4 linked regions of the Homo sapiens genome follow. The protein of the gene in region 2 purifies or fractionates together with the protein of the main gene of each other region. This does not show direct contact. Each region holds a gene or a part of one and is shown on either strand. Other genes may lie near its edges. The genes, in order: MEIOC, NXF2, YTHDC1 and BORA.

Region 1 (7,038 bases), on a different chromosome or scaffold from region 2:
TGCATCCCTTTCGTTAACAGAGGCCAGGAAATATGCAAATATTTGAGTGGGCATATTAACTGGATTAACTTTAAAATGTATCACTTATATCCTTAACATACTTAAAACAGTGAACTGAAATTAAATCCAAATAAATTTTAGTCCGGATGTAAACACTGCAGAGAGCAGTGGAACTATGGTCTGGGTTCCACTTGAGCTTTGTCATTTAGGGCACAAATCAAGCTCTCTGAGGCTCAGTTTCTCAATCTGTACAGTGGCATAATAATATACAAGATTCTTAGTGTGGATTAAATAAAATAATTTATTTCTAGATATTGTTATAATTCAAAGTACAACAATATCAACATTGATGTCCTGGTTAAATAATTTCAAATGAAAATTACTTACATTACCCAAGCTTTATTTCCTTTGATTAATAAATCTAAATGTCTTGGTGAGGTAAGTGGTAGCATATAATTTAAGACATTGTTAAAACCAGAAAATAAAGGAGTAAAGTGAAATTTTCACCTTTAAATTATCAAAAATATGTTTGTACCAACTTGCAATAAATGCCTGAACGAAAAAAAACATATTTTAATCTTACTAAATAATGGATTTTCTTACATTTCTGGAATTATGTTATGCTAAGGACAAGATGGAAACGAATCAATGAAAAATCTTATTCTTCAATTTGTTTTCTTTTTTCTTTTTTTTTTTTTTTTGAGAGGGAGTCTCACTCTGTCACCCAGGCTGGAGTGCAGTGGCATGATCTTGGCTCACTGCAACCTCCACCTCCCTGGTTTAAGATTCTCCTGCCTCAGTCTCCCAAGTAGCTGGGATTACAGGTGCCTGCCCCCACACCCGGCTGATTTTTGTATTTTTAGTAGAGATGGGGTTTCGCCATGTTGGCCAGGCTGGTCTTGAACTCCCGAACTCAGGTGATCCACCCGCCTCAGCCCCCCAGAGTGCTGGGATTACAGGCACGAGCCATGGCGCCCGGCCCTTAACTTATTTTCAAAGCAAAGTATGTATTCTGCAAACACTGTATTTAAAAGATTGTAGCCGGGCGCGGTGGCTCACGCCTGTAATCCCAGCACTTTGGGAGGCTGAGGCGAGCGGATCACGAGGTCAGGAGATCGAGACCATACTGGCTAACACAGTGAAACCCCGTATCTACTAAAAATACAAAAAAATTAGCCGGGCGTGGTGGCGGGTGCCTGTAGTCCCAGCTACTCGGGAGGCTGAGGCAGGAGAATGGCGTGAACCTGGGAGGTGGAGCTTGCAGTGAGCGGAGATTGCGTCACTGCACTCCAGCCTGGGCGACAGAGCAAGACTCCGTCTCAAAAAAAAAAAAAAAAAATTGTTCCTGGGCTGGGCGCTGTGGCCTGAAATCCTAGCACTTTGGGAGGCCGAGGCGGGAGGATGGCTGGAGCCCAGAAGTTCGAGACCAGCCTGGGGAACATGGTGAAACCCGGTCTCTAAAAACAATACAAAAATTAGCCGGGCATGATGGCAGGTGCCTGTAATCCCAGCTACTGGGGAGGCTGAGACGGAAGAACTGCTTGAACCAGGGAGACAGAGGTTGCAGTGATCCGAGATCGCACCACTGCACTCCAGCCTGGGCAACAGAAGGAGACTCCGTCTCAAAAAACAAAACAAAACGGCTGGACGCGGTGGCTCATGCCTGTAATCCCAGCACTTTGGGAGGCCGAGGTGCGCGGATCACCCGAGGTTGGGAGTTCGAGACCAGCCTGACCAACATGGAGAAACCCTGTCTCTACTAAAAATACAAAATTAGCCAGGCGTGGTGGCGCATGCCTGTAATCCCAGCTACTCCGGAGGCTGAGGCAGGAGAATAACTTGAGCCCCGGAGGCAGAGGTTGAGGTGAGCCGAGATCGCACCACTGCACTCCAGCCTGGGCAACAAGAGCAAAACTCCATCTCAAAAACAAAAAACAAAAACAAAACAAACAAAAAAAACAGCCGGGCGTGGTGGCGCGTGCCTCAGGAAGCTGAGGCACAAGAATCGCCTGAGCCCGGCTGGCGGAGGTTGCAGTGAGCCGAGATGGCGCCACTGCACTCCAGCCTAGGAGACAGAGCAAGACTCTGTCTCAAAAAAAAAAAAAAAAAAAAAAAGTTTTCCCTGGTTTTCTCTTCCTTAACTGTGGAGCCATTAAACACCTATGAATCGGTGGCTCGAGTAAATCCATTTGAGAATAAATCGTCTAACAGAGGCAGAGTTTACTAAAGGACCTGCGATGTGTAGCAATCGTAGAAGGAAGCGGAGCCAGTCAACATCACGCTGCCGAAGACGTCGGTTAACCTGCTGCCGGCGTCGGCGCCGAGGTTCCAACAGCGATTCGCACCTCCGGGGAACGCGACTTTGGGCTGCAGCACACGGGAATAGGAAATATCAGAAAGTGGTCACGAGGGTGACGCCGGAGCTGAAACGGCCCGACACCTGTTCTACCTCGGCTGTTCGGCTCAATTCCGAACCCTCTCAGAGGACACGAATGTGGGGGCCCGCGCTTCCAGCCTCGGGATTCTCACTCTCCCCTCGGGCCCCCTGAGTGCTGACCCCGAGGGGCGCCCCTCCCCGGCCACCGCCTCAGCGCGACGGCTGCCTCCCGGGAATCGCGGCGACCCGCGCTCCGTCCGGCCCGTCCAGTCAGCCCGCGCCGCGCCCCCCGCCCGCCCGCCCCGTTCGGCCTCCCCACCGACGACCCGCCTCTGCCGCCCCGTCTAGGGACGCGCCCCCTCCTCAGCCTCTCCTCCTCGTCGCCTCTTGCAAGTCTGGCCGCCCCCTGGACCCTGCCCTTCCTCATCCATTACCTCAAGTCCTTCCTCCCTCAGGCCTGAGGGGTGAGGGCGCGGGCAGGTGTCTCCGCGTCTCACCTCCATGGGGCGCCCCCCAGCCTCTCCTGGACTAGGCACAGCTCCTGGGGTACGGGGGTGATGGGGGGGGCGTCCAGGCCCGGCTCCCTCAGCCCGCACCCCGCCGTCTCCGCAGCCGCCTCCGCCGCCCGGGCGCTGCCTGGAGCCAGTGTGCGGGTAAGGGAAGTCCGAGCGGGGAGGGAGGGGCGGGGGCAGAGGCCGTTACCTGGCCTGCCTGGGGCTCGCGGCTCGGCACGCGACACGGCACAGGCGCGCCCCGCCCCGCTGTGAGGCCCGCCCCTCCCGTTTCGCAGCCCGCCATTGGTCCGATGCCCATCCAATGGGCGACCACTCCAGGCTCCGTTACCCCCCAGAGACAAGGAGAGGAAGGGGCGGTTAGCGGACCACGCTCTCTCGCCGCTTCTGAGCTTTTCCCGCTCAAAGTAAATGTGTTCGGGATTGGCCCGGACTGGCAGGCACCGGCCCGATGATTTGCTGATAGGGCAGCGGAGAGGCCGGTCGTGGAAGGTTGAAAGAGCTAAAGAGCGCAGCCCTACCGGGTGGGAGAGGTGTTGGAGGCACTTGGAAGATTTGAGAAGTCGCTCAGCAACTGGCTTATCCTCCAAAACCTAGCTGTTGCGCACATTTCATTTGTCCGACATTTCATATTTGTTCCTTAGTCCCTCCCGTAGCTTCAGAATCCGTTGGAGCTGCCCAGAGACTGATATATCTTGTACCGGTTTGGGGAGGGCGAGGAGCAACTTGTGGATTGGGTGTTGCTGGGAGACCCCTTTTTGAGGGAGAGCTGCCCTGTGTCCTAAGCCCGGGCTTTCAGTCCGGGTTAAGGCATTTAAGTGTTAATGTGACTTTTGAACAAAGTTCGCTGTGACCTTTTTGTTCGTTTTTGTTTGTCTGTGTAAAACAGGGTCTTGCTCTGTCGCCCAGGCTGGAGTGCAGTGGCGCTATCATAGCTCGTTGCAGCCTTGAACTCCCGGGTTCAAGCGACCCTCCCGCCTCAGCCTCCCGAGTAGCTGGGGCTGCAGGCACGCGGCGCCACCACTCCTGGCTAATTTTTTAATTTTTTTGTAAAGCTGAAGGGCGGGGGGGTTGGGTCTCCTTATGTTGCCCAGGCTGGTCTCAAACTCCTGGTCTCGAGCGATCCTCCCGCCTCAGCCTCCCGAGTAGTTGGGGCTACAGGCGCGTGCCACCACTCCCAGCTAATTTTTTTTTTTTTTTTTTTTTTGGTGAGATGGAGTCTCACTGTCGCCAGGCTAGAGTGCGGTGGCGCAAAGGCTCACTGCAACCTCCGCCTCCCGGGTTCAAGCGATTCTCCCGCCTCAGCCTCCCGAGTAGCTAGGACTACAGGCCCACGCCACCACGCCCCGCTAATTTTTGTATTTTTAGTAGAGACGGGAATTTCACCATGTTGTCCAGGATGGTCTCGATCTCTTGACCTCGTGATCCGCCCGCCTCGGCCTCCCAAAATTCTGGGATTACAGGCGTGAGCCACGGCGCCTGGCCCTAGCTAATTTTTTAATTTTTTTGTAGAGCTGGGGTTGGAGGTGGGGATGGGGGTAGGGGGTTGGATCTCCTTATGTTGCTCAGGCTGGTCTTGAACTGAACTCTTGGCCTGAAGTGATCCTCCGCCTCGGCCTCCCAAAGTGTGGGATTACAGGTGAGAGCTTACATAAACAAGCCATTCCAGGCACCCAACAAACCATTCACATAGCAGTCAGATTGGGGATGTGATGGTCTCAGAGAAATGCTAGTTTTTGTCCCTAGACACTGCTAAAAAATCAGATAGTTGAAATATAAAAGAAGTAAACACAGTAAGCACCTTTAGGCTGTTTTTATATTTAAAATCAAAACTTGAGAAATGAGCACTTAAGTGGAAGATACTGTTTTAACTCAGACACGAATGGAAGTAGGAGGATGAGTTTTATTGACCCATATTGTCCTGATAGTTACTTCAGGTCTCTACTCAGCTTTGAGTTCAGAAAGCTCACCAAGGCTGGGCGCAGTGGCTTGTGCCTGTAATCCCAGCACTTTGGGAGGCCGAGGCAGGAGGATTGCTTGAGCCCAGGAGTTGCCCAGCCAGGGCAACATAAGGAGACTTCGTCTCTACAAAAAAATTAACAATTAGTTGGGTGTGGTGGTGTGTGCCTGTAGTCCCAGGTACCTGCACTTGGGAGGCTGAGATGGGAGGATCGCCTGAGCTGGAGAGTTGGAGGATGCAGTGAGCCATAATCACTCCATCACACTCCAGCCTGGGCAACAGAGCAAGACCCTGTTTCAAAAAAAAAAAAAAAAAAAAAGGAAGAAAGAAAAGAAAAAAAGCTGCTGGACTCACACCTGTAATCCCAGCATTTAGGGAAGCAAAGGCAGGAGGATAGATTGAGCCCAGGAGTTTGAGATTTGCCTGGGGAATATAGTGCTCCACAAAAAGGAAAAACAAAATGTGCATGCACACACACACACACACACACAAACACACACACACGCACACACACTTAAAAAAAGCTGACCAGGTGGTGTGGCTCTAACAGTTACATTTCTCTGCCTCAGCCTTAAAGTTGCTGGTGTAGGGCTCATTGCATTGAGGACTACTGGCTTTTTCCCCCTCTCCTATACTCCCTAGAAGCATTTTGAAAAGCTATGAATCCCCTTATGTATTTTTATAGTAAAATATACATAAGATTTGTCGTTTTTAAGTGTTTGGTTAAGTGGCATTAAGCACATTCATAATGTTGTGTAACCATGACCGCTCTACAGTTTCAGAACTTCATTAATCACAAACAGAAACTCTGCAGCATCCCATAAATAATTATTCCCCATGCCCCCTTCTCCCAGTTCTGGCAACCACCATTCTACTTTCTATCTCTATGAATTTGACTACTCTAGGTACCATATATAAGTGGAATCATACAATATTTATCCTTTTGTGCCTGGCTTATTTTACTAAGGTAAAATAAACCTTGTCATCAAGGTTCCTTCATGTTATAGCATATACCTGAATGTCATTCCTTTTTATGGCTGACTAAGGTTCCATTGTATGGATATACCACATTTTGTTCAAGCATTCATCTGTTTATGGACACATGGGTGGTTTCCACCTTTTTTTTTTTTTTTTGAGTCAGAGTCTTGCTCTGTGCTGCAGGCTGGAGTGCAGGCGCAATCTTGGCTCACTGCAACCTCCCCCTTATCGGAGGAATCGTTCAGATGATTCTCCTGCCTCAGCTTCCCCAGGAGCTGGGATTACAGGCATGTGCCACCAAACCTGGCTAATTTTTTTTTTTTTTTGAGACAGAGTCTTGCTCTGTCACCCAGGTTGGAGTGCAGTGGCATGATCTCAGCTCACTGCAACCTCTGCCTCCTGGGTTCAAGTGATTCTCCTGTCTCAGCCTCCTGAGTAGCTGGGATTACAGGCATGAATCACCATGCCTGGCTGATTTTTGTATTTTTAGTAGAGACAGGGTTTTGCCATGTTGGACAGGCTGGCCTCGAACTCCTGACCTCTGGTGATCCGCCTGCCTCAGCCTCCCACAGTGCTGGGATTACAGGTTTGAGCCACCGTGCCCCGCCTAATTTTTGTATTTTTAATAGAAATGGGATCTCACCATGTTGGCCAGGGTGTTCTCGACCTCTTGACCTCAAGTGATCTGCCTGCCTTGACCTCTCAAAGTGATTACAGGCATGAGTCACCGCGCTTGGCTCTCAACTTTTCACTATTGTGCGTAGTACTGCTAGAAACATTGGTGTACAAGTATTTGATTAATTTTTTTTCCAATTATTTTGGGTATATACCTAAGAGTGGTATTGTTGGGACATATGGTAATTGTATTCGATGTCTTGAGTAATTCCAAAATGTTTTACACTGTGGCTGCACCATTTTACATTCTCACCAACAATGCATGAGAGTTCCCATTTCTCCACATCCTCACCAACACTTGTTATTTTCTTTTTCTTTTTCTTTCTTTCTTTCTTTTTTTTTTTTTGAGACAGAGTCTCCCTCTGTCACCCAGCCTGGAGTAGAGTGGCACGATCTTGGTTCATTGTAACCTCTGCCTCCCAGGTTCAAGGGATTTTCATGCCTCAGCCTCCCGAGTAGCTGGGATTACAGGCACGCACAACCACGCCTGGCTAAATTTTTGTATTTTTAGTAGAGACAGGGTTTTTCCATGTTAC
Region 2 (7,033 bases):
ATGGTCCCTGACTCCTGTGCCCCTCTGTGCTGACGCCTTGACCGAGGAATGCTACCCATCTCGGGCTACCCAGGGCTCCTCTGAGGGCCCAGGCAGGACGATGTGAGGTGGAGAAGGAGGGAAGGTGGGGCAGTGCCCTGAGAGGCCTGTCCTTCTGTCTTCTCAACCTCCTCTGCCCTCTGCCTTCCACTCCTGCCTCAGGAACGTGGCCCGCTTCTGGCCCCTTGACGTAGGAAACCCAGGTTTCTCCCCAAGGAGGGCCCAGCTCCTGGCATTGGGCCAGAGGAAGAGATGGCATGACAGCAGCCACCCGGGGCCCCAGCCCTCAGTATGGGGCAGGGAAGCCCCCATGCCAGCCCAGGACAGGTGGGGGGACCTTTTTGGAGCAAGAGAAGGAGAACCCCTCTTGGGACAGGGGAGGGAAGCCCCATCGCAGCATGGAGGCAGGAAGGCCTGTCTCAGCATGAAGCCCCGGACTAAAGGACTCTTCTCGGTCCAGGGCACCAGCATCTGAATACTGCTGGTCCTGGGGAGGTGGGGGAGCCCCACTTCCTGGAGCACACTCACAGAGGGCACACTGGAGGAGGCTTGGTGGAGACAGGCGGGAAACACACCCCAGAGCAGGTGAAAAGGGGACCATGTCAGAGGAAGGAAAGGAGACCTCTAAGCACAGATGAGTGAGTGACAGAGAGAGAGGAGAGAGAGAGAGAGAGAGAGAGAGTAGGAAGGGAGGTCTGTGGTCCTCCCAGAGGACCAAGGCTGCTTCTTCCTGCAGAAGGGCACCTTCAGACACAGCTCAGTCACCCAGGGAGCAAAGGTGCCCAGGAAGGGTGACCGGGGTTGCCACTGACCTTACATAGGCGGACTGGTCCGAGAAGGTGCTGCACAACGGGTTCCCTTCTAGCCATAGCTCTTCGAGCTTCAGCCCTTTCACCTTGCCCAACTCCCACGCCGACTCCAGCTAAGAAAGATGGGGAGGAAACTGGAGAAGGAGGGCCAGGGAAAGAGAGACACCCAGGACCCTGGGCCCTGAATTCCCCCGGCCCTCATAGTCACCCACAGGTGCCACTGCCTGGCTGTTGCCATTATCCTGATGTGTCCTGCCCTCCACCCAAAGTTGATCTGGCTCCCCCTTCTCACCTTATTTTTGGAGAGATTCAGGGTCTTGACTTTGGGAGCCTTCTCTGTAATGTCAGAAAGGCCATCCAGCTGGTACAGCTTGTTGTTGCACAAGTTCAAAGACAACAGCTTTGGGTCAAGAAGAGTTAGAGTGGCGGCTACTATCTTGGGCCTCAGAGACAAATCTGCCCTCCACCTTATCCCTTCCACCCCTCTAACTAAATACCAGCACTGAGCCTAAGGCTTCACCTCAGGGAAATTTCTTTCAATGATCTTCAGGGTGGCAGCCATGCAGTTTCTTCGATTCAGGATTATATCAATGTCACGGCCCATCAAGTCTTGAAGAAGCCAAGAGAAGGGAATCGGAAGGCTGGGAGGGCCCTGGCTGGACCAGAGCCAGCCCCAACCCCTCTGTAAATTGCCATTCCTAAGTCTCCCTCCCAGGCAGACCTCTCTGCCCCCGCTTGTCTTAGAATTGCTGCTGTCAGCCTTACCTGGGTCAAAGCGGAGATTCTGGAGATCAAGAGCTTGCTGGGAGACATTGTACCGTTTGTTCATGGTCAGCTGCAGAGATAGAGATGAAGACAGAGGCTCTGGGGCTCTGGTGATGGTGGTGGTGGTGGTGGTGATGGTGGTGGTGGTGGTGGTGGTGGTGGTGGTGGTGGTGGTGGTGACAGGGAAAGAGGGGGCCAGGGGAAGAAGAGGTGGGTCCAGGAAGCAGGCATACAATGATCCTTGAGTCTGTATTACCTTTAGCATCTCCATTTGGCCTGGCTTCAACTTATTCTTCACAGAGTAGGGCGCAGTAGAATGATTGACAAATATACATATCTGCAGGAAGGCAGGGTGGTAAGTACCAGGACCTCTAATCCCAAAGAGGATGACCAGCCCCCTGGCCTGTCCTCCTGCCCAGAGACTAAGTACAGGGCATGCCCTCGGCACACACCTTTTGGTTCTCATCATCATAAATCTTATAACTGACATCCTTCAATGCGGAGGCAGCGCTAGCATCCTGGACAAAGAAGCATGCCCGATTTCGGACGTAGTGGAACTACAGGGAGTGAAGGCAAGAGCAACAGCGTCAGAGGCCAATGGCCCCTGCTGAGCCAGGCCTCTCCCCGTCCCCCATGCCCACTCATCTGGCTTCACCATCCTCTCTTACATCAACCGGAGTGAAGCGGTCACTGCAATGGCTCTGGATTGAATTCATTAGCCATGCCTTGTCATACTTTATCCCGTAAGGAATCTAAGGGTAAAAAGAAGAAATAGGAGGGAAGGGAGAGACAACGTGGAACTAAGGATGGAGAACAGAACCAACCAGCTGGGTTTTTTTTTTCTTTCTTTCCAACCTTCTACTTAGCTTAGATTTCTAAAGAAAGGACCGCTGACATGATTTCTTATTTTTGTGCCAAATATAGATGCCCTAAACTCCCTTTCCCCCCATTCCGAAGCTCTCCTCCAAATAATCAACTTAGGGTGTTTTAAGTGGTCTTCCTTCTATCAGGTTCCAGAATAGTCCACCTAATGCAGACCCCACCAAGATACTCACTGTGACCTTAAACCAGTTCCTTGTGTATCCATCCTGTGTGTTCTGACTCATTTTTCTCTCCGGAGGTTTTCTATTTCTCCACGTGGTAATACGGATTTCGTCTTCACTATGCCATTTCATTCTTCTTTCGCATCGGATGCTATAAGGAGTGCTGTGGGGAAGAGGAGAGAAGGCGGGTATCCATTAAATCTAAGAAAGTCTCCTATACATGCTCCACTCACTGACGCCAGGGCTACAATTAGGACTGCTCAGCCACTATTCCACTTCCAGCATTCGTCAGTTCTCTAATGAGAGAAGAAAAGGAAGACCACAGAGAATGAAAGGGTTGCACAGTCCCGGGGGCTGCTACGTGCAAACCAGGCTGCCTGGTCACTTACTGTCTTAGTTGTTGGTCCTTGTGGACATCCCTCATCTCCACGCTTCCATCATTCTCCTGGCAGTGTGAAGGCGGGCGCTCATACCCACCATGTTCATAATGACAGCTCCTCTTGTCAAAATTATCCCGGAAAGAACTCCCACCTTTCTTTCTTCCTTGAAAAGTGCTACCATGGTCATGGCATTCTGCAACTGAGAACAAAAAGACAAGTTTGAGACACATCAATGGTCCACTTACCACGTACCACGTCGTGAGCTAACTCCATGGTAGGGCTAGCAAAGTGCCAACCCGCCACATAAGCCCCAGAAAACAAACTCCTCTGCCTGTCCAGATACAAGAGCCTTATCTCACAGGTGGCACAATCAGGGTAGGAATCTTGGGAGAGGAAGCAACTGTGTTGAACCTCCTGAGAAATGGAGCAGGAATTATAAAGAACAGAGGTGCGCGTGTCCATGGGTTAGACTAGACACCAGCCACACACCTGGAAGGGGTCCTAATCTTGCCTTCTCTCAGGCTTCTCTAATCTAACAACCACACCAACACCTGGGAGACAAGCTCTCTCGCACCTCCCAAATCCAATCCCCAAATGCATTCTGTGAACAATCAGCAAGCTATACCTCTTTGCCAGTGCAGTACGAGCTTTAATGACAGGTGGGTCCGATGTAACAGCTTCCCAAGCTGCCCTCCTGCCTCCAGCCTTGCCCTCAAAAATACTCAGTTTGAAATACCCAGAGCAAGCTTTCTTTTTGCCCAGCCCGAAATGCTTTCAGCCCAAGAGACAACTCTTCCTAAGCAAGTGACAGAATTACTGGAAAGAAAATCAGCAGATACTGAAAACCACTACAGTAACAGGATCTAAATGACATAAATAAAACACCGTACCCAACACACTGTACCCAACAACAAAAACAGAGCATGTATGTTTTTTCCCCCTCTACTGTCTTGCAGCATTCACGAAGGTAGACCATCTCCTGGACCATCAAACAGACCTCGACCAATTTCAAAATGTACACCTTGTCTCAGGGCACTCTTATGAATAAAATTTCGGTCACTGCTGACCTCTCTGCAATATACTGATTATGGCCAGGCCTCAGATGAACTTCTGTAGGGGGCATCATTGCTTTCACTGTGTGTGACCCGCTGTCAGGACAGTCCTGCTCCTCTCGATTGCTGGGACTTTCCCTGTGTGCCATTAGAAGTGAAATTAAATGTGGGCAGAGCATCTGACCTAGACATTCCTGATGCTTGGTCCCTACAACTTGGAAGTGGGGCTGGAGTGCTCTCTTTCTCTCACACTCTACATCCAACCGATCAGGATGGATGTATCTTCTCTTGGCTCTACCTTTAAAATATATCCAGAGTCTGGCCACTTCTCACCCCCTCCATTGCTACCTACCCTGGCCAGGTCACCAACATCTGTCTCCTGGATTATGCTGCCTTCCAAGTTGTCCTGCTTTTGCCCTTGACTCCCCTACCATCTATTTTCAACACAGGAGGCAGAGTGATTTTTTAAGGCATAAGTCAAATCTTGTCATTCCTTTACTCAAAATCCTTTAACCGCGGTTTGGAGCCCATCAGTATGTTAAAAAGTTATGAGTCCATAACAATACTCAACAACAGCAACAACAACAACAAAGACCCCTATTGGTGACATTTGGAGGATGTCCAGAAACCAACTCATTTTCATGAAAGTCCATAAATGAAAGGGAAAAAAATCAAAGATTAAAGTGAGGGTTAAGGGCACACGGTCAATATATGGAGCACAGGAAGAGTCAGAGTCATTTTTGAGAACACACATTACTTCAGAAATAACGTCACTGAGGGGAAGAAGGTGTAAAAGTGTAAGCTAGCCAACAGCTACAGCTACAGCCTCAGGCAAGGCCTTGTGTTGGAAGAGAGCACATGTGATAAAAAGCCACAGAGGGACCGGACAGAGAGAGATGCCGAAGACACAACACACACAGGCGTACATCCACTTGCTGAACTCTGGCATCTCAGCACAATCCCTGTCTCGCAGTTGTGCTGCCAGAATTACGGGCGATCTCAAGAGTATTATAAAGCAGCTAGTACTTCTCACCCAGACCGCCTGGGTTTCCCCTCAAGTCCCACCATGTACTGGCTGATCCCCCCACACAGACATAGTGGTGAGTAACCTTTATGACATCACGTGTGTTCCTACTGGTACTTCCTGTGTTAGTTTGGAATTCTGCCTACATCACTGCCATGCCACTGAGTGCATGGCATCAGCATCCCTGCTACGGCAGGGAAAGAACGGGATAAGAAGAAAACCAACCCTTGCCCAGTGGCAACCAACATCTGCTCAGTGTTGGGCAGACTCACTAGGTTTCTCTTGACCTCCTCACAGAAATCCCATGAGAATTTTATCCACAGTCCCTTTTCAGATCATGAATATTGGGTTCACAGATGTCGGGTACATTTCCCAGCCAGGTAAGTGGCAGAACAGGAATTATGTCCTCACGTATATTGGTCTGCCTCTATACCCTGAGTGCTCCTCCAGAGACTGCACTGGTTCTCCCTTAAATGGCAAGCTTTCAGGTCTCATCGACAGATTTTTTTGTAAGCAGGCCGGGATGATGTTTTGTGCTAGTCACTCCTGTTGGGGTGGGAACCAGGTGTCTTGGATAAGGTGGAGATCTCTGTCTTGGACCAGATGGGTGTAATCTGTTTGGGCCATGGGTTTTCAGATTAGGAGTCACTTTGGGCTGGTAGTGTCTGGCATAGAATAAGGGCCTAATTAATATTTGTTAAATGAATGCATTTGATGTAGGTTTGGGATCATCGACAAAACCACTTTTGAGAATACATCCATCTGAACCATTTCTACCGACCTCTATTTATATTTATTCCAGAGCTATTCGGGCTGCAGAACTATTTCATAACCTGACTGCAAAACTAGAACAAATTAATCTTTTCTTCTGCAACATTAATATTTTTTCATTAATGTATCCTTAGAAATAGAACTGAGTACCTCCCTGCAGACTGTGGCTAGAACTGCAGCTTTGAAGATCTCAGAGAAGGAGGCTTTTGCAAATAGTGCTGACAGAAATGAGGAGAGGCGTTCCCTGAATCCAGCAGATAGGGCTTTCTGGACATCTGGTCTCTGTAGGAAGAATGTTCTGGACCTACAGGCATGTTGTGTTCACTCAGCCTTGTGACAGACAGGAAGCATCATCCCTGTCTCAGAGAAAGGGAAGAATGTGTGGTCTGTGTGTCCGTGTTGCCCATGCGAGCAAGTATTAGTGTTTCGTATTACATGCTTCCACAATTAGGTTACAGATACATGTACTCCAAATCATGTTGGTAAACACATTGCCACACAACACTGGATCCCACTGCACATTTCTTTTCATGTGTTATGTATTATATATGGCCAAATTTTGTTTCTTGTTCAGAATATGCTTTTTAGTGCTTTTTTTCTTTTCTACCTCTCGGTGTTTTAATATTTGAACTGATAGTTTTAAAATAAGAAAGTAGGAGAGTTCCCTGTACACAAAAGTAATGGAACAATACCCACAGGTTGACCAGGGTTACAGAGTACCCCCAGCAGGGGTGGCCAAAAAACCCAGTGGAACACAGCCAGGGCTTCGAAGTGGGTTTAAGATTTTGAGTCCCTGCTCTACAGTTTCCCAGGAGAAGCACATGAGTACTTTTAAGCATAAAGTGATATTTTCGTAAGGATTTTCAATGATATTTACACCAATATACACTTCCACTAACCGTGTGTGAGTCTAATTTTCTGCAATATGCCTAACCATTCAGAAGTCATTCTTACACTTTGATCCAGACGTTTCACTTTTCGAATTTATTACATATATCACTCTCTGTCTAAATATATACATATAATTATACGGCTGTGCTTTACAGGTCCTTTGGGACAGAAGGATGACGGGACCAGAGAGTGGCTGATATTGTCAAAGGGAGAAGTAGAAATGACTGCCCTTGCAATGAAGTAGACATGGCAAGGAAGG
Region 3 (7,033 bases), on a different chromosome or scaffold from region 2:
CCAGTTTAAAACAGTTATAGGAAAGGCATAAATGAAAACCTACAGCCACCAAAATATAAGAAGGTTATAAATTAATGGGATTATCACTGTTATTTAAATATCAGCAATTAAATACCCACGATCCAAGTAGAAGTAAAAGCATAGGCCAAGCTAAATGTATCATTTGGGGTTGAGATTCTTTGGTGGCACTGGTTCCAACTAGATTCAAGAGACATCTGTTCACTGTTTCAACACAGTTAATCTCAGCCAGAACATCACAGAAAACTGTGAAGCCTGAGGCAAAACAGGGCTCAGAATAAATTAAGAAAAATTGCAGGGTCTGTGATCCATGTAGCATCCTTATTTTATCCTTTCTTCTCAGATCACAATCATAGAACAAGCAACCTAACAGTTACCTTCTGAGCAGCTATGTTATGAAGCATACAGATACAACTTATCTTTACTGTGAGTTCTTTGAGAACATGTAAGGGACTCTCTGACCTAAGTGGTTCTGCAAATAGGGCAAATTTAACAAAGAATGTAAAACTGTGCACAGTTTTTTGTTTTGAGACACAGTCTCACTCTGTTACCCAGACTGGAGTGCAGCTGCATGATCTCGGCTTGCTGCAACCTCCGCCTCCTGAGTTCAAGGGATTCTCATGCCTCAGCCTCCCATGTAGCTGGGACTACAGGCATGCGCCACCACATCTGGCTAATTTTTGCATTTTTAGTAGAGACGGGGTTTCACCATGTTGGCCATGCTAGTCTCGAACTCCTGGCCTCAAGTGATGCACCCACCTCAGCCTCCCAAAGTGCTGGGATTACAGGCATGAACCACTGCGCCCAGCCATGCAGAGGCTCTTATATGCTGGACAGTGGTTTGTTGATTAAAGTTAAAAAGAAAAATGGAGGCCGGGCGCAGTGGCTCATGCCTGTAGTAATCCCAGCACTTTGGGAGGCTGAGGCGGGCGGATCACCTGAGGTCGGGAGTTCGAGACCAGCCTAACCAACATGGAGAAACCCCGTCTCTACTAAAAATAAAAAATTAGCCGGGCGTGGTGGCACATGCCTGTAATCCCAGCTACTAGGGAGGCTGAGGCAGAAGAATCGCTTGAACCCGGGAGGCGGAAGTTGTGGTGAGCCGAGATTGCGCCATTGCACTCTAGCCTGGGCAACAAGAGCGAAACTCCGTCTCAAAAGAAAAGAAAAGAAAAATGGAGAGACTCTAAATGAAAACAGAAATGGGTTGTTTGGAATGGACATGAAAGGAATATAACACCTAGTCAGTAAATGTAACTCTGGATGAATAGTATTTCATAGATCATGCCTTATTTTGAGCTAATTACAGGTGGCAACCTTAATAAGTCGCTTTTTATGCCTCCCTCTCTTTATCAGCTAAAACATGACACTTATCTGGTCCCAATCTTCCATGTGCCTACCAACTACCTGAACCATCAAGAATTTAACAGGTTTGAGGTGGGTTTCAAGATTCTGCATTTTAACAGTCAGATGCTACTGATGTAAGTGATCCAGGGATCACACCTAAAAAAGCTTAAGTCTAGTTATTATTATATCCAAAGGGTCCTTAAATATAAATCTAATAATTATTATATCTGCAAAAGAAAAAAATATTAACAGCAGTTACTGTTGATAGCAAAGTCCTGACCATTTCTATTTATTAAATTTAAATGTTCTGAGACTCAAATGTAATTCTCACTATATAGAGAGAATTTAAACTCAAGAGAGTTCAAGTGACTTATCTAAGGAAATATCAATGTTAGAAATATCACAAGCCCTCCAGAACTGTAAAGTATTGTAAAATTACACTTGAATAGAACTTGAGTATTAAAACATTAAAACTATAGTTTTATTATGTAAAAATACTATTTCTAGGTAAACCCATAAACTTACTTTAAAATAATAAAAGCACTTTACTGCCCACAATTTTACACCTCACGTTAGTAGGATAGACAAATTGAGTCTGTCTACCTCTTCGGTTGCTTGATACATTTCAAACAAATTAGTAGAATAGTCAATAAGTCAATGAAGAGGAATATGAAGAATGAATAATCCATGAAAAATTAAATTCATCTTAAAATTAAGAATTTCCTTATCAGTAATGTAAAAATGAAGGTTAACAGAACAAATAACATTTGAAACAAAATCTGCTGCAACCCACATAAAAATGGGCAATTATTTTCTCTCCTGTTCCCAAGAAAGCAACACCTGCAAATATGTTACATTACAACGTTTCCTCTGGCCTTTACAGAGCAGTCACATACACACACAAAATAAAAATAATCACTCCCTTTCCTACAAATTGTCACCAGATTTTCAACTTTAATTATAACTTAATTATAATTTTGATTTCAAAAAAACCAAGTTTATATTTTAAAACCCCTGGGGGCAACAGAGAGGAAGTGGGAGAAAGCACTAACAGTCTCACCACCTAACACTGCATTCCAATACCATAATTATGTATTTTTTCATTTGTTATACCTTTCCATGTTGATATGTGCACAATTACTTCCACATATATTTAAGAGACAAACTATAATTTAACTAATTTTCTATTTCAAAGAATTTAGATGATTTCCAACTCTTTCCCACAGAAAGTAATAATGGGATGAGTATTTTTTCTGCACATAGCTTTTTGCTACGCTATTATCAACCTAATACAGTTATGTGTCACTTAATGACAGGGATACACTCATTAGGTGATTTCATTGTGTGAACATCACAGAATGCACTTACACAAACCTAAATGGTATAGCCTACTACATACCTAGGATATATGGTATGACCTGTTTCTCCTAGCCTACAAATCTGCACAGCATGTTACTGTATTGAATAGTGTAGGTAAATGTAACACAATGGAAAATACTTGTGTATCTAAACATAGAAAAGGTATAGTAAAATATGGTATTATAGGTACCTCTTACGAGTCCTACAGTCTTATGGGACAAGATTCTTTGTTGATGGGTATGTCACTACACAGTAAGTGACTGTATGCTATTTGTAATATATCACTCCCTCTATCTTCACAGCTCCTCACTATCCTACAATAAACATTTAGGCTGACTCACATTCATTCATTCTTATCCATCTTTGCCCTCTGTTCTTCTCTTTTCCTAACCATCTCCTTCATAAAAAAAGGTAGCTCCCTATCCCACTCACACATCCATATGCCCTCCCACTGCTCCCCACAACCCTGCAACCCCATAGTTTGTTTCCATGCTCTTCTTGGCTTAGGCTGATTTCCATCATATGCATAGCATTTTTCTTCTTTTTCATCCGACCCCTTCAGGCTCATCAAGATCTAATACCCAAAAACAACTTAAAACTCACAAAGTAACCATCTCCTTTCAGACACTTTTTAACTAAAATTAATTTTACAGGTAATACATTTGTGTATGCCACGTAAAGATCACTTAAATAATGAGCTTCTTGTGTACAATACTTCAGTGTGCAGTAAGGACCTAAAAATAGTGACAACTCAGTGTTCAAAATAAGCCTGATTATTTTTCTAATAAATACAGTTAAATCTTAACTCAGTTTCAGAAGATCACAATGGCAACTAAACATCATTTGCTAACCTCCTTAAAAAATACTGTCCACGACTAAACTAGTTACCTCCGAAATTGTTAGCCAAGTCATAGTACTTATTTCCCATTCCTCAATAACTTAAGTGACATGTTAAATCACTAAAATTATACAGATACGCCAGACAACATTTCAAGCAACTGTCCAATTCATTTACTGCTTTATTACTAATATACAAAACAAATCAAATACATGTAACTTTAGACTAAATACGCCTTTGTTGTGTCCCACATTAGATAAAGGTAGTTACTGAACAAGGTAAGATAAGTATACAGTGACTTTTTCACTTTAACACATTATTCTAAACTGGTAGTGTATTCAAAATTTCAGTTATCTATACTGAAGTGTATAATTTACCTGCAAATCCAGTCAATTTTAAAGACACCTCCCAGCATTTTAGCACTCATTCCTGCTGGAAGCACCCAGTGTATAGGAGATCCTCCGTGATGTGATTCTGAAGAAAGTCTTGCAAACCCTAAGAGAATCATATCATAATATAATATGTAGATGCTAATATAATTAATGTTTTTATATGTCCAAATTATTTTTATTCTTACCTTGAAATTTTCCACTCTCTCTGACAGAAAATATTAAGATAACACTCCTTGCAGATCTAAATGCAAGATTTAATTTCTTCTCATTTACAGGGAGCGTGGACCATACACCCTACATAAATAACATAAAGACCACAAAGTGAAATTAACTACAACTCTTTTGTGTTTCCAGTTATGTTTGAAAAAAAACTACATATTTTGGTGTGCTTTCAATTTAAGTAAGCTATAATGAAGAAAGGTTTTATTTATCAGCTGTCAGAATAACGTAGTAATAATTTATAAAAACCTAAGGGAAAAAATGGAGACAATTACCAATTTTACAAAACCATTAAAGCAAGTAGTAAATAGATGGAGATGAGGTTCAAATCTAAGGGACTAGAATTCTATATAGTAAAACCAATCACTACAATTATTTTAATATTACAACCATTTACTGTGGTAAATACATCCTGTTTGAAGGTGAATCGCCACTTAGAAGTTAGTCTTCTTGCAAAACCGTACCTGATCAAATAATTTAAAATTACTCTATTAGTCAAGAATCTAGCATTTTTCTATTTAAGTTCGTTTTTTAAAGCAGTTTTTAAGTTCAAATTTTTATGTATCAATAGTTTGACTGAAGAGGCCTACGTTTTACCTACAGCTGGAAGATATTTGTTAATTTCTAAAGCATTTTAACCAATTCTTCATTCATAACAGATAAAAAGAAATGGAATAATAAGGCAGATGCTATCATTCAGCTCACACCATCTGCTCATACAAATGACATCTCATTCAAACTAAGTGCTTACAGTTGTTCCTCAGTCTCCACTGGGGACTGGTTCCAGGACCCATGCAGATACCAAAATCTGAGGATGCTCAAGTCCCTTATATAAAATGGCACAGTATTTGCGTATAACCCATGCATATACTCCCATATACTTTAAATCACCTCTAGAATACTTATACCTAATACAATGTAAATGCTATGTGAATAGTTGTTATACTGTGTTTAAGTTTGTATTTTCTGTTTTATTATTTCTCATTCCTTTTTCCCCTAATATTTCAATCCAGTTAGTTAAATCGAAAGATGAGGAACCCTGTGGATACCGAGGGCCAAGTGTACTTCTGCCTAAATCCACTTAAGCTAGAGAACAGAATAAGGCTATTTGGTGTACTGTTTCCTTCTGTTTGTAAAGTTTTAGGGGTAGTCCTTAAGGTAGAAATATAGAATACTGACAGAAATATCATTAGAGAAATGTCTAACTTTAGTTTTAAGTTTCTGAAAATCAGTTGAAACTGTAGTTACTCAGTTTAAACCAAGAATAGCAAAACACTGTAACAGCTAGTGTAACACAAAAATGTATTTTTGTAGCCAAACATAAAAAGAAAATTATTATCTTACAACATCCTACAGCAACTATGCATATCTTTTTTGCAAAGTCTGGAGTGGATCTTTAAGCTAATTCTTTTTCTTCTAAATCCCAATGATCTTAATTCTAAAAAATAAAACTCTCCATAAAAGAATGATTTCAAAAGAACCTCAAAGTGTAAATCAAGCATCAACATAAAACAAAAATTGGTTAACTACAGGTACTTTTAGAAGTGTTAGCACAATAAATGAGCCACTGAGGAAGTACAGAAACAAAAATCAACAGAAACAGGATCTTTTACAGCAAAAAGTTAAACTGTATAGCCTTCAACATTTAATATTCTGACCCCTAAAATCATCTTAAAAAAAAAAAAAGAAAACTCAAATTACAAGTAGGCTGACTGACTACAACCAGATCCTAAGTGGCCATTGGAATGTAGATCTTTAAAGCCGTAATGAAAATCATAATACCTATGCTACTTGATATAATACAAGTCTATTTTCCCATTTAAAAATTTTGATATTAGGATAGTTTCAACAGAACTGATGCTAATACCTTCGCTTTGGCAAGAGACACATTCTCATGGTTGTTACTCTTTATGAGGAAAAATCTTGCATCTTGAAGCACATATTTGAGTTTACTGGTTTGATCTGAAAAAAAAAGAAACCCAAATCGATTAACCACAAGCCATTATCACACAAAGGGGTCAAAACTGTACTAACTGAAATTAGCCCTCCACAACCCAGCTAAACTTTTAAAACGCAACAATCACCCATTCAACCTGGAAGGCTAAGCCACATGTAATAAAGCAAAGCTAAGAAAAGACAATCAGCATATTGCAAGAAAGTAAACCTAACCTAGTGATGTTCCGATATATCAAATCCATATTTAAGTATGAAAATGGTTACCAAGTTTTATAGATTTTCTTACTCAGATTCAAGAATAACAGACCATTATATACATACATATATATACACACACATCTATATATAACACATACACACATACACACACACACCCATCCCATTTTGTCCAAAAACTAAAATATCCTGAAATGTTTGGTATTATTCTAAAAAATATGCAGTAAGAAGCAGACACAGAGCTTTCTATGTTAAGATATTATTTTTTGCTTCATGTAATATATCGGAACATTACTACATTAAAAGCAGCTATTAATGGAGAACCAATAAGGAAAAATAATGACTATGCAGCATGCAATGAAAACAATTTCAAATTTAAATGATACCTTTTCGGACAGCACGAACGGAAGATGATAATTTCTCATGCTTCTTTTCTGAACCTGTATTTAGCCAAAGTACATTTGTTCAGATTGAGCTTTAATAGAGATAAGACAAAATTTCTACAGTCTTGTCACATAAAATTCTCATTCAAGACAAATTATTCTTCCTGGCGCACCCACACACACAAAAAAAACTTCTCAATGTGTACGAGTGTTTTGCTTTTTGGGTTGTTTGGATTTTTTTAAAAGTATGTATATTTGAACAGTTTCCCACTCAGAAAACTAGTCACTGAATCATCATCTTCCAA
Region 4 (4,807 bases), on a different chromosome or scaffold from region 2:
GCCAGACGCTTATAAAACCTTCAGATCTCATGAGACCGGCTCACTATCACAGGAACAGCATGGAGGAAACCGCCCCCATGATCCAGTTACCTCCACCTGGTCCCACCCTTGACACGTGGGGATTGCTACAATTCAAGGTTAGATTTGGGTGAGGACACAGAGCCATACCATATCAGCCCAGATCAAGTAGTGACAGAGTAGGGATTTGAATACAGGTTATAGTCACTATTGTGTTATTTCTTGACTTTTGTACTATTAAAAAACTGTAGCCAGTGAGGCTTCTACCCTTAGTACCCAGAACTCCTTTTAGGTATAGCAATTGTTTTTAGGTAAATTTATATTGAGTTTAACACCTGTGTGATTAAAGACAACTTTCCAATGTAGTATCTGTAGCCATGTCCCCTAATGGCTATTAGTGTTCATGGTTAGTGTGTTGAAGATGAGCCAGGTACATAACGCGGCACATTTTCTGCAGGTCAGCAGTAAGGTTTCAAGGTACAGTTATGGAGGAAAGAAGAAAATGACACATTGATAACACAGGTCTTTATTCCCTTTTGAATGAGACAGTTTTTAAAAGTTGATTTATAAATACAAAAATACATTCTCCAAAGATAGTATTTCCAAACTGTTATATACCCATCTACTCCCAACATGGATATAAGTTTTTTAAAAAAATAGTTGTATATAACATACATATCTGCCCCAGTGTTACTTCACAGGCCTATGCCCTACGGGAACTCCACTCTCCCAGCCCCACTTTTTCTCTTGGTTCTCCCACATTCTTATTCTCCCACATCCCTACCCACGTTTGAGCTGGAAAGGATGTCCCTACCCTAGGCATGAGGTATATTTTATTCTGGGCACCACACATTTGCCCCATAGATAACAATACACGTGATGATGTCACTAGTACTACCTTTCTAGTATTTACATACTTAAAAGTAGTAACTAGAACAGTTATCACTGGAACTAAGAATTTTCCCCACAGAGGTGAACAGACCAAGAACTAAAATTTCAGGAAACCTGTTTAATTTCTTTTGTATCTTTGAAAAGTTAGTTTTATATCTAAGATTTCTTCACATAGGTTATAATTCATCTGTATGTTCAAGCTTTTATGTAAAAATATATAGTGCCTTCAGTTTTAACATAGTTTCACATGTTCTCAGAACTGCTAAATTCAGTGCTACCAGTAAGGCTTAATAAGTAGTTCATTGACCCTGTAAGATAGGAGCACTCAGCTCTGTCACAATTTGTTGTTAAACACATCACTCAATGTAAGTATAAAAATATTTATTGATAAAAAATAAACTTATAATTCAGCAACTTGAAGTTCCAGGAGCATTTCTGTTGTTCCTATGTCAGTAAGCCCTTGATTTTTCACATTAAGGAGGGAAAGCTAAGCATGTTACTTGAAGTAATTTTTTCCCAGTCACCATCATGTTGATCCTGTGCACAACGATATATGCGAGGAACTCTTAAGCTTAGTCTTTGATTCTGACAGAGGCATTCTATGGACTGCTGCATTGAAAAGGGCTTGCTGTTTTCATCCAACACCTCTGTGTTGTGTGGTCTTGCTGTGAAAAAGAAGACAATACCTTGTTTTCAGTTTAAGTAGGACCACTGGAGGATGCAATTATCGGGACTGTTTTTAAAACCTAAAAGCACGTTTCTTTAGCTGAACTCTGAAGGGACAGTAAAGATACAGTATTTTATAAATCAATATTCTGCATCAAAAAGCATCCCAACACTTTGAGAGGCCAAGGTGGGAGGATCGCACGAGCCCAGGAGTTTGGGACTAGCCCTGGCAACATAGTGAGACCCTGTCTCTACCAAAAATTTTAAAAAGCTGGGTGTGGTGGCACATGCCTGTAGCCCTAGCTACTCAGGAGGCTGAGGTGGTAAGACTGCTTGAGTCTGGGAGGTGAAGGCTACAGTGAGCTGTGGTCGTGCCACTACACTCTAGCCTGGGTGACAGAATGAGACCTTGTCTCAAAAAAAATAAAATAATAAAATTTAAAAAAATCCTTCATTTATCTCTACTTATGTTTAGATAGACAACTGCATCCTGAAATAGGATGGATTTTGTTCAGGTTAATATTAGAAGAGACCTGCTCTGATACTACATACAACAGAAAGGCAGTTTGCTCCTACTACATACAACAGAAAGGAAAACTAAGGTGGCCTCCCTATTAAACATTTGTTGCACATTTGCTGATATTTATAGTATTTTATAAGAAACTGGCATATAACAGCAGGGCAAGGTGGTTCACACCTGTAGTTCTAGCTACTCAGGAGGGTGAGGCAGGAGGATTGCTTGAGCCCAGCAGTTAAAGGCTGTAGTGATCTGATTCTACGACTGCACTCCAGCCCGGGTGACAGAGTAAGACCCTGTCTCAAAAAAAAAAAAAAAGAAAAAAAAGAAACGGCATACAAGGCTGGGCATGTTGGCTCATGCCTGTAATCGCGCAGCACTTTGCGAGGCTGAGGCAGAAAGACTGCTTGACACCAGGAGTTTGAGACCAGCCTGGGCAACACAGCAGGCCCTGTCTCTACAAAAAAATAAAATGCAAAAAAAATTGGCACATAAAATTAAAGACTGTCCTGACTAGTGCCTGAAATTATGATGAGTTTCTTCAAGTATGAATATATAACCACCACCTGGAAGGTTCAGTAAATGCCCTCATCAAATACACGCTACCTTTGCACACTTTGTAGTATGTAAGATACTTGTGTATTCAGAGTAACCAAAATATTTAAAGGTTATTGGATGTTAAGAAAACAGGCTTACCTTTTAGTGTTTTAAATTTCATATAGTTTCTCAATAGTACTATTGTCTAATAATCAAAATTATTTTATATTTCTAATCTAAACAATATTAAGCTTTCACTATATTTTCTCCGTACCTTCATATTAAATGCTTGAGATTTACTCTCAACTTCACATGTTTGTGCATCACTTTCTTTGCAGTAACTTTCTGCCCCAACTGTATCCATAATATTGCTTCCACAATTCTGCGTATTATAGCCACTATCCATCTGACAGGAGAAAAAAGAAAAAAATATATTGTGAGGAACTTAAAAGTCAAATATTTAAATAAGTAAACCACTATAAACTCTCATTCACTACATCTGAATGATCCTAACATGTAATATTGATCATGTTGAACAAAATTCAAAAGTAATGCACAAATATAAAAGGTAGTCCTGCATAGTACTGATTATTGTAGTCATTTTACAATTCCTTCCAATGAAATATATCTTGTAACTTCCTTAAGAATCAGTGAACAGCCTACTGACACAATGCTTTCCTGTTATTTTGTGATCGTACCTAGTAGACAAAAATGAGTATTACAACTAACTTCACCTTCCAACGCATTTTCCAGGCTTGTCTCTAAATGGCTTGAGGCATGCTGCCTTTAAAAAAGTGGATTATATTATATTTACACCTAGTTGTTCACAATAATGCCACATATATAATGGCTCTAGATGTTAGTTCAGCTTTTCATGTTAATAAAAATTGTAGCATCCTAAGATACACTGTTTCAGTGCAAAAGAGCAAAAAAGAAAGATTCTAGCGAACTTCCAGCTTGGAAACATTTATTGAGTGTCTAAAAAGGCCAGGCACTATCTCTATATATTTAATATTTTTTTCTCCTTTCAACAACCCTAATACTTTACTAGAGAAGGAAATTAAGGCTTAAAAAGCTTAACTTTCACAATGTCATCCAGTGATGAGGTGATGAAGATGTGAGACCTAAGTCCAGGTTCTGTTCACTGCACAACGCTCCATTTACCTGTATAATGCTGAGCACCAAAGAAAGCAATCCACAAGGGAATCATTTTGCATTTAAGCCCTCCCTGCAAGTTAGGATCAGAGGGAAGGAAAAAGCTGACTGTCATTTTGTTTCCCTCACAAAGGTACAGACTAGCCTAGAAACGGCACTCTTTATCACTTAATAATCCTGAAAAAATGTTCCCAGATTTCAAGGCTGGATACATATCTGCTTACTACTAGAGGTCATGTTCCAATTAGAACAAAAGCCTTGTGATGTGTAACATTTTTGGGGAAAAGCCTTGTTCTGCTATCATTCAATAGCTACTTGATCAAAAATATAAATGTCAGATTGCTCCCAGAGATTCTGCCAATAGCTCTTCCTTCTAATATTCATCACTGCCAAATAGCTGGCTTATAATGCAATACTAATATGTAACTGGATATATATGGAGGGAAGAGTTACTCATTAGTACAGCAGGAAGTAAGGCATGCGGGGAGTTTGTCCCACACTATGGGAAGAGCAGGATTGATGAGAGCCAAGTTGAGATGGTGGCTGACTTCACTGTCTCTCATCTAGACTTCTGCTAATGTCAATGCCTAATATGTACCAACCAGGCAACAGATACCTTGTTATCCCCCACAGGCATCAAGGCAGGCATCAATCTCACTTTATAGCTAAGAAGGATGAGGGGACAAAAATTAAAAAGTCATGTTCTATTCACTGCTATGTAAATCTTGCCTTAAGATCCCACAGCCTGGAAATAAAAGAACTCTAATTCAAACTTGGTTCTAATTGCAAACTTTATATTCCAGTTGGGTCATGGTGCCTTTAAATGGTGTCTCTATGTCAGTCATTTAACATGCACTTTGTTACTAAATTTATTTTTCTACCACATAAATCAGATGTCATTGTCTTTTAAAACTTTCAATTGGCAACAGTTGTGCCCTGTGATAACATTCCTTGACATCTGGGCCCAGCACTTTAGCCCTTCCCTCATCATTCTCAGTCCCCCTTGTTTGTTACCATTCAAAG

What was found.
Region 1: the proteins of NXF2 (region 2) and MEIOC purify together in Homo sapiens (affinity purification with mass spectrometry, with the first as the bait; 2 studies listed by BioGRID). This does not show direct contact.
Region 3: the proteins of NXF2 (region 2) and YTHDC1 purify together in Homo sapiens (affinity purification with mass spectrometry, with the first as the bait; 2 studies listed by BioGRID). This does not show direct contact.
Region 4: the proteins of NXF2 (region 2) and BORA purify together in Homo sapiens (affinity purification with mass spectrometry, with the first as the bait; 2 studies listed by BioGRID). This does not show direct contact.

The regions. Positions count from the first base shown.
Region 1 is NC_000017.11:44,652,456-44,659,493, reverse strand, and holds the start of MEIOC (meiosis-specific coiled-coil domain-containing protein MEIOC), read right to left. Parts: upstream 3,027-7,038; 5' UTR 2,881-3,026; coding exon 2,812-2,880; intron 2,368-2,811; coding exon 2,233-2,367; intron 1-2,232. UniProt on the Homo sapiens protein: Is required for meiosis completion in both male and female germ cells. Confers stability to numerous meiotic mRNAs in gonads allowing proper initiation and progression into meiosis prophase I.
Region 2 is NC_000023.11:102,313,165-102,320,197, reverse strand, and holds part of NXF2 (nuclear RNA export factor 2), read right to left. Parts: intron 3,236-7,033; coding exon 3,046-3,235; intron 2,820-3,045; coding exon 2,669-2,819; intron 2,366-2,668; coding exon 2,282-2,365; intron 2,171-2,281; coding exon 2,066-2,170; intron 1,951-2,065; coding exon 1,870-1,950; intron 1,684-1,869; coding exon 1,614-1,683; intron 1,458-1,613; coding exon 1,369-1,457; intron 1,249-1,368; coding exon 1,141-1,248; intron 962-1,140; coding exon 852-961; intron 1-851. UniProt on the Homo sapiens protein: Involved in the export of mRNA from the nucleus to the cytoplasm.
Region 3 is NC_000004.12:68,326,063-68,333,095, forward strand, and holds part of YTHDC1 (YTH domain-containing protein 1), read right to left. Parts: intron 6,786-7,033; coding exon 6,732-6,785; intron 6,136-6,731; coding exon 6,041-6,135; intron 4,249-6,040; coding exon 4,140-4,248; intron 4,058-4,139; coding exon 3,940-4,057; intron 1-3,939. UniProt on the Homo sapiens protein: Regulator of alternative splicing that specifically recognizes and binds N6-methyladenosine (m6A)-containing RNAs.
Region 4 is NC_000013.11:72,751,918-72,756,724, reverse strand, and holds the end of BORA (protein aurora borealis), read right to left. Parts: intron 4,557-4,807; exon of another isoform or gene 3,036-4,556; coding exon 2,904-3,035; exon of another isoform or gene 1,575-2,903; coding exon 1,509-1,574; 3' UTR 529-1,508; downstream 1-528. UniProt on the Homo sapiens protein: Required for the activation of AURKA at the onset of mitosis.